Linked DNA regions of Homo sapiens. The protein of the gene in region 2 purifies or fractionates together with the protein of the main gene of each other region. This does not show direct contact. Each region holds a gene or a part of one and is shown on either strand. Other genes may lie near its edges. The genes, in order: LRP8 and C1orf159.

What was found.
Region 1: the proteins of C1orf159 (region 2) and LRP8 fractionate together in Homo sapiens (co-fractionation; one large-scale study listed by BioGRID). This does not show direct contact.

What each region holds. Positions count from the first base shown.
Region 1 is NC_000001.11:53,317,794-53,321,605, forward strand, and holds part of LRP8 (low-density lipoprotein receptor-related protein 8 isoform 1 precursor), read right to left. Parts: intron 1-3,812. UniProt on the Homo sapiens protein: Cell surface receptor for Reelin (RELN) and apolipoprotein E (apoE)-containing ligands. LRP8 participates in transmitting the extracellular Reelin signal to intracellular signaling processes, by binding to DAB1 on its cytoplasmic tail.
Region 2 is NC_000001.11:1,109,467-1,113,278, reverse strand, and holds part of C1orf159 (uncharacterized protein C1orf159 isoform 2 precursor), read left to right. Parts: intron 1-3,812.

The DNA.
Region 1 (3,812 bases), about 52 Mb from region 2:
CACTGCATCCGGCCCAATTGTGAGTGCAGGAAGAAGGCAGAAGGGAAAGTCACCCAAGGAACCTGGGCCTCAGGGTGGAGCTCTGGAAGTGGAGCTAAGGAGTCCAGCTGCCCTGTTTCCCTGCCCAGAATCCAGCCCACCAAGCCAGCTATACTCCCCGCACTGTCACCAGGTAGTAAGGCACAGATCCCTGCCCTAGGCAAGGACTGGCCAGCTCCAGCCCTGAACCCAGCTCCAGGCACAGGAGTCTGCTCCAAGTGCTGGGGGCAGTGCAGGTGGAATAAGGACCAATGAGTGAAAGGAAAATGAAGTTCAGAGAGGGAGAGCCATTCACCCAAGGTCACACAGCAAGTTAGGGGCATAGATAGAAGAATTAGAACGCTGCGGAGGAGATGCCTTCTACCAATATCCTGAGAAGAATGAAGGAACAGTTTTGTACTCTTCTGCTTTTTTTTTTTTTTGGTGGGGGTGAAAGCCCTTGGGGCCAGAACACCGCTCGTTGTTCTCTCTCCTGGCTTTGCTTTCTGTGGCCTGGATATGGCTGCTTTGTCCCATGGGACCAGAATGAGGTGGCCCTGTGCTCAGAGAAGAGGGAAGTCCTTCAGCTGCCTGCCTCGCTGGAAAGGAGAGCCATGGGGCCATAGAGGGAGAGAGTTGTGAGATGGGAAAGATTCTCCCCTCTAGAGAGCAGAACGGCAATGATGAAAATGCACACACTCAGCAGCTCCTTTCCTAAGAACTTATCTTAAAGAAAGGACCAAGCAAATGCACAAGGATGGAGTTCAAGGATGTCCATCCTAGCATTGCACAGAGCAGGGAAAAACATGGAAGCAACCAAACACACATCTATCAACGGGAGAAAATGTCATTAAATTATGGAAGATCCACACAATACAATACTATCTAGCCCTTTAAAACAAGGATGTGAACTACTGTTATTGCCATAGAAAGCCATATGTGAAAACAACCGGCATAACATGGCCTCATTTTTGTTAAAAAAAAAAAATACATATGTTCATGCCCAAGAGCTCACATGCAGAGAAAAATCTCTAGAAGGCTATGCTGCTTACATAGTGGTACTAGCAAGGGTGAGAACTACCTTCGTCCAAGCTGGAGTGCAGTGGTGTGATCTCGGCTCACTGCAACCTTCGTTTCCTGTTCTTTATTAACTATGTTTTTCATTACAAGTGTAAAGTTACTTTCAGCTAACCAGAAGTTACTTACCCTGGAAAACTAAATAAGTAAAATCAGTTGAAGTGAGTTTTAGCTCCAGAACTACCAATAACTGGGTGAGTCTCTTATCCTCTCTGAGCCTCGTTTTCCTCATCAAGGAATGGGGATCATAATGAACTCCTGCACCGCCTGCCTCCCAGGAGCACACCTGTGAGGCACCAACTGGAAAAGCCATCCAAGGATTACGGCAGGTTGAGAGGGCTGGAAACTAAGATGCCCTCCAGAGTGGCTGGGATGAAGTCCCCTGTGGTACCTCAAGGCCAGTGACCAGGGGAGGATGGGGGCCAAATGACCACTCCCGTGGACTCCTAGACAGACTGGCAGACAGCTTTGGGGTGTCTGTCCTGCCACATGCCACGTTCCAAGGGGCAGGCGTGTAGAGGCCATGAGGGGTCATGGGAACTGTGTGCACCACATGAGCCCCACAGCCCTGGGCTCGCTGGGTGACTCTCAGTTTCCCAAGGACACTCCATGGCGCCTGAGAGCATGCCGCATTCTATGCCCCCAAAGCAGCTAGGCCCGGCTCTCCCATTGTGGGTACCTAGGCTGGGCCCCACCAGAGACAAAGAGGTCAGAGCGGGTACAGTCAGTGAGGAACTCGGTCAAGACTGAGCAGGATTCCCCTGAAGGCCCTCAGCCCCTCCCCTGCCACTCCGGCTGCGGGGTGATTACTGGAGTCTATGACATATGGCAGCTTGTGAGAGGAGCTGGGGTGAGCAGGGCTGATAATTAAAACCGCTGCCGGGGGACCCAGCTCATGCTGGAGGGCGCCCAAGGGGCTGGGCTGCTCAGGAGGGAGTTGGCACACCCACTAGCAGGTGCTGGCAAAGAGGGACGCCTGGAAAGGAAGAGAGGCCCCAGCACAGCCTGCAAGCCACACTTTACTGTCATCGTGACTGGGATGTGTGAATGCATATCTCCTTTCAGCTGCCTCAGACCTGCAGCCAGACAGGCATGGCCCAGTCCTGCCACTGACCAGCGGGGCCACCCGGGGCAAGTGACTTCATCTCTCAGAGTCTTGGTTCTCTCCTCTGCGAAATGCAGTCATGATACCTCAAGGCACCGGCTGAAGGAGGTCTTGCATGAGAAAGCCCCTCACTAGCTCGCTCCCTAACTCTTCTTAGTGTTAACGTGAGTATTTTAGATGACTTCTTGGCAATCCAGAAGTGGGCAAGCAGGGCCCAGTGGGGCCAGTGGTGCACCTGAGGTCCCCAGTCAGGAGCCCAAAGCCCTTCGGTACTGCAAAAGGCTTGTGTCCACCCCTCAGCCTGAGAGCACCCTGTTCCCGGATCCAGCAGGGAACAAAGAGGGTGGGGGTGGGAGGGGGAAGCACATACAGTTCTGACTCCAGTCCCACCCAGAATTGAGGACACCTGAGTTCTGAGAATGGTGCCCTACTGACGATGGAGCCAATTCGACCATCAGGGCCTTAGTTTCACCTTTCTAAGCCTGGGTGCGAGGAGGCAGCCAGGCCCCGTGTTACTACAGAGAGTAAAAGAGATGACCCTGGGCTGACACTCCCTGAGGTCATGTGCATCACTATCATCAGGTTCTCAGTTTCCCCTTCCATACAGTCAGAAGAAGAATCAGCATCTAACAGGCAAAGGCTGAGAGAAGCCTATGAAAACTGGAATGTCATCCCCATGGGAGCTGGAAAAGGCCTATGTGAGGGCTCTGCGGGGTCTCCAGAGAACAGGGTCCCTCCCCAGTCCCACTCCCCAGGTCAGAAACTGGTAGCTCAGGGAGGCACTGCTGAGTCCTGCAGCTGCTCCCTACTTCCTCCCACACCCTCCAAGCACCAGCCTCTGACCCCACCAGGGTAGACAGCGCTCAGCGGGGAACGGCTTAAGAAGAGTCTGGGCTCCAGACCAGACAGACCTGGGTCAGCTCCTGGCTCCACCACTTAATGGTCATGACATTGGCCAAGTTCCGTCTCCTTTCTGAGCCTCAGTTTCATCATCTTCGAAATGAGAACGAAAAACTAGCCCTCCCAGGGTTGTGAGTAGTGAAGTTAAAGGATGTGAATTGTCCAACGTGGTCCCAGGCATGGGATATAGGCAGCCAATAGCTGTTATTAGCTACCCCTTGAGGAAACGACTTTGGAATTCCTACTGCCCAGCACAAGGCTGGCGGAGTGCACAATGTTGAGAAGGATCTGCAACTGCGGGAAGAAAAAGGACACGTTGTGGGAGCTCAGGGCCTGAGGGGCTGGAGGACAGGGGTCTAGAAAGGCATCTCTGGAGGAAGTGGCATCCCTGCCAGGCCTTCAGAGCCTGGGTGATCTGGATGTGTGGGCATTTGGGGGGCAGGTGCTACCAACGTTACTTAGGCCTGGGGCTGCAAGGCCTGGCTCCACAACCCTAAGGACACAACCCCACACCCTCCCACAGACCCCAGTGCTGGCCCCCTGGGACAGCATGGGCCTGGGAGTAGACCACTAACCTGGTGCTGGGAGAGCATGCATGCATTTACTTCCTTCAAGGGCGTGCCTGTTCCATCCGCCCTCTGGGCTCTCGCTCCTCACTGCCCCCTGGGGGTCTCTCTCTCTCTGGCTTCACCTGCTACCAGCATTTCCCCAA
Region 2 (3,812 bases):
ATTCTCGCTGCCTCAGAAGAAAGAATTTGATGGAAGGACATGAGGCTGAAGGAGAGACTGAGGCAAGTTTTTTTTTTTTTTTTGAGATGGAGTCTGTCTCTGTCGCCCAGGCTGGAGTGCAGTGGCACAATCTCGGCTCACTGCAAGCTCTGCCTCCCGGGTTCATGTCATTCTCCTGCCTCAGCCTCCCGAGTAGCTGGGACTACAGGTGCCTGCCACCACAACCGGCTAATTTTTTGTATTTTAGTAGAGAAGGGGTTTCTGCATTTTGGTCAGGCTGGTCTCGAACTCCCAACCTCAGATGATCCACCCACCTCAGCCTCCCAAAGTGCTGGGATCACAGGCGTGAGCCACCGCACCCCACCGACTAAGGCAAGTTTTAGAGCAGGAGTGAAAGTTGTTGAAGAAGCTTTAGAGCAGGAAGGAAAGGAAGTACCCTTGGAGGAGGGCCAGACGGGCGATGTGAGAGATCAGGTGTGCGGTTTCACCTTTTGACTTGGGGTTTTATAGCCTGGCAGGCTTCTGGGGTCTTGCACCCCTTCTCCCCTGATCCTTCTTCAGGGTGGGCTGTCCACCCATGCAGCATCTTGCTAGTACTTGGGCGGGAGCATGCGCCATGTGTTCCCTGGAGGGAGGGAGCATGCCCGGTGTGTTCACTGGAGGGAGGGAGCATGCCCCGTGTATTCACTGGGGGGAGGGAGCATGCGCTGTGTGTTCACTGGAGGGAGGGAGCGTGCGCGTTGTGTTCACTGGAGGGAGGGAGCATGTGCCGTGTGTTCACTGGAGGGAGGTAGCATGTGCCGTGTGTTCACTGGAAGGAGGGAGCATGCGCTGTGTGTTCACTGGAGGGAGGGAGCGTGTGCGTTGTGTTCACTGGAGGGAGGGACCGTGCGCCGTGTGTTCACTGGAGTAGTGCCCATGCTCACCTGAGGCGTTCTTCCGTTACCTGTCAAACGTCCCTAGAAGGTCATAGAACGGTTACACGCCGCCATTTTGCCTCTCAGTGCACACGCTTGAGCCAACTCGCCCAGTTCCTGAGATCGTATCGGGAAGCTGCCCATCACCGGATTTCATGTGTTTTCTAGCTATTGGGAGCCTGTCTTTCCCTGGCGCTGGGTGCAACCAGTTCTTTTAGACAGTTAACAGCCACCTGACCATCACCTGATGGTGGCCTGACATTCCCGGTGGGGGGATGGGCCCGATCCTGCCCTGCTCACGTCTGCTGAGCCACCTACGGCAACCGCCCGACTCCGGTGTGCTGAGCCCACGGGTAGGTGGGCAGCGACTACCATGCATGTCAACAAAGGGGGATGTCTCCTTTACACCCCATCAAGGGGTTTGCGGTATTTGTTTTCTATCAAAGCACGAGAGGGATCTTTAGGTAGAGAGGCCCCAGACAGTTCTTATTGGGCCCTTAAAGCTACGTTTCACGTTGGCTTCCTTTGCTTGCTACGAAGATGACCAGCATTAGCTACACGGATGCAGTGGAAGCTCCAGCCAGCCCTCGGGGCTGTGTTTACCGAGGTTCAGCAGCGTGAGAAACCCGCCAGTGGACCCTCCCGCCTCCCCTTTTCAGTTACTGCTGCCTGGGCGGCTGGAGTTACGGTGAGCGTGGGTGTGGTCTACCCACTGCCCCAGCCGGTGGTTGCTTTTACAGGGTTGTTTTGCAAGATGTTACTTATTTAAAATCACAGTGACCTGAGGCATCATTTTTTTCTTGAAACCAGTTCTTTGTTGTTGTTGTTGAGACGGGGTCTGGCTCTGTCGCCCAGGTAGAGTGCAGTGGTGCGATCATGGCTCACTGTAGCCTTGACCTCCCAGGCTCAAGAGATTCTTTCACTTCAGCCTCCCAAATAGCTGGGACCACAAGTATACGTCACCAAGCCCAGCTATTTTTTTTTTTTTTTTTTTTTGGTAGAGATGAGATCTCACTCTGTTGTCCGGGCTGGTTTTGAACTCCTGGGCTCAAGCGATCCTCCCACCTTGGCCTCCCAAAATGATGGGATTGCAGGCCTGAGCCTCCACACCTGCCCTGAAACCAGTTCTTCTAAGGGAAAATAAGAGTGGTCAAAGAGTGTATAGCACAATTTAAATTCTCACTAAATTTTTCATTGCCTTGTAGAAATTTTCATCCCATTATTTAGCTTTTTGGCTCCAATGAGATTTTCAAAATAGAAAATGCATGTGTTTAGTTACTAAGGCATAATTTACATGCAGTGAAACACACAGAGCTTGTGTCCAGTTCAATTGTTTTGACAAAGGATTCACCAGACTCCTGTCGTGATGTAGAATCTGCCTGTGATCCATGGAGATTGCCTCGCAGGCTGCTCCAGCGCCCGCCTGCCGCGCCAGACAGGAGCGCTGCTGTGATTTTACCGACACTCTGAGTGTTAGGAGTCACACGTGCGGGCGGTTTTGCGTCTGCCACGGCTCACGCAGAGAACTGTTGTTGAGCTTCCTCTGAGGTGCTGCACAAGGAGTGGGTGTGGGATGCGCTGTTGCGTGCTCGTCGTCTCTGAGGGCGCCCGGGTGGGTTTCCGCTGTCTGAAGAGTTGGGCCTATTTTTGTGCACGTGTTTGGCGGGCGTGTGTTGTTTCTCTTGGGAACGTGCCCGGGGGGAAGGCTGCATCCCAGGTGTGGAAGTCCCAGCGGTTCTGTGTGTCCCCACAGCCGAGAGGCTGAGTGCCGTTTGGTCGTGGAGGCTTTAGTTTGCATTTCCCTGACGCTCACCCGTGTTGAGCACTGTCCACTCATCTGTTGCCATTCGCACACGTTTTCTGAGTGTCCGAGGATGTCTTTTGCCCATTTTTTTGATGACCAGATTGTGAAAGTCCTTTATATATTCCATATTCAGGGCTTTTGTCTGGTACGTGTACTGTGACTATCTCCCATTCTTTGATTTGCCTATTAATTTTATTACTGATGTTGTAAACTAAGAATAAAATCCTAAGTCCCCCGCCGACTGAACGAGCTCCCTCTTGGTCAAGGGGACCCCAGAGAAACCTTAAAAATTGAGTTTCCGGCCATAAAAGGATGGGAGGTTGGACACACCTGGTTATACTGCCACCCTTTTTCAGTTTAGACACAACTGACCAACATTAGTGTTAAAGTGGAGATCACGAGACTGACAGACTCTGCGGCAATAAGACGCCGAGTTATAATCAGGACCTAAGGCCGTGCCAGGCCGGGGTTAAGTCACACACCCTTACAGTTAAAGAATAAGGCTTGGGTTTTCTTTTCCTCTAGCAGTTAAGCAGGCACTGGCCTGAGACAAGCGGTATGGAAACAGTGATGGCTCGCTGCCAGGCACTAACTGACCCCCCATTTCACGGCCATAACTACAGCGTCACTTTCCATAACTTCCTCCTGATAAGACACCACTGGCCACGGACTGGTTCTGCTGGTCTATGGAGGATGTGACTGGAGTGACTCCCGGGCCGCGCCTCACCTTTGGCCATATAGGGCCTAATTGTCTTACATGTAAATGTGAAATCTCACCTCTCAGTGAACATGGGTCCTGCGTTACATGCATGTTTATCTAGTACACATGCATTAAGACAGGAGAGAGGAGCGCTTGAGCCCAGGAGTTCAAGACCAGCCTGCGAAACACAGCAAGACACCCTTTTTACCAAAAAATAAAAATAAAATTAGCCAGATATGGTGGCAGGCATGTAGTCCTAGCTACTTGGGAGGCTGAGGCGGGAGAGTTGCTTGAGCCCAGGAGTTCAAGATGGCGGTGAGCTATGATTGCACCACTGCACTCCAGCCTGGGCAACAGAGCAAACCCATCTCTAAAAGAAAGAAAGAAATTT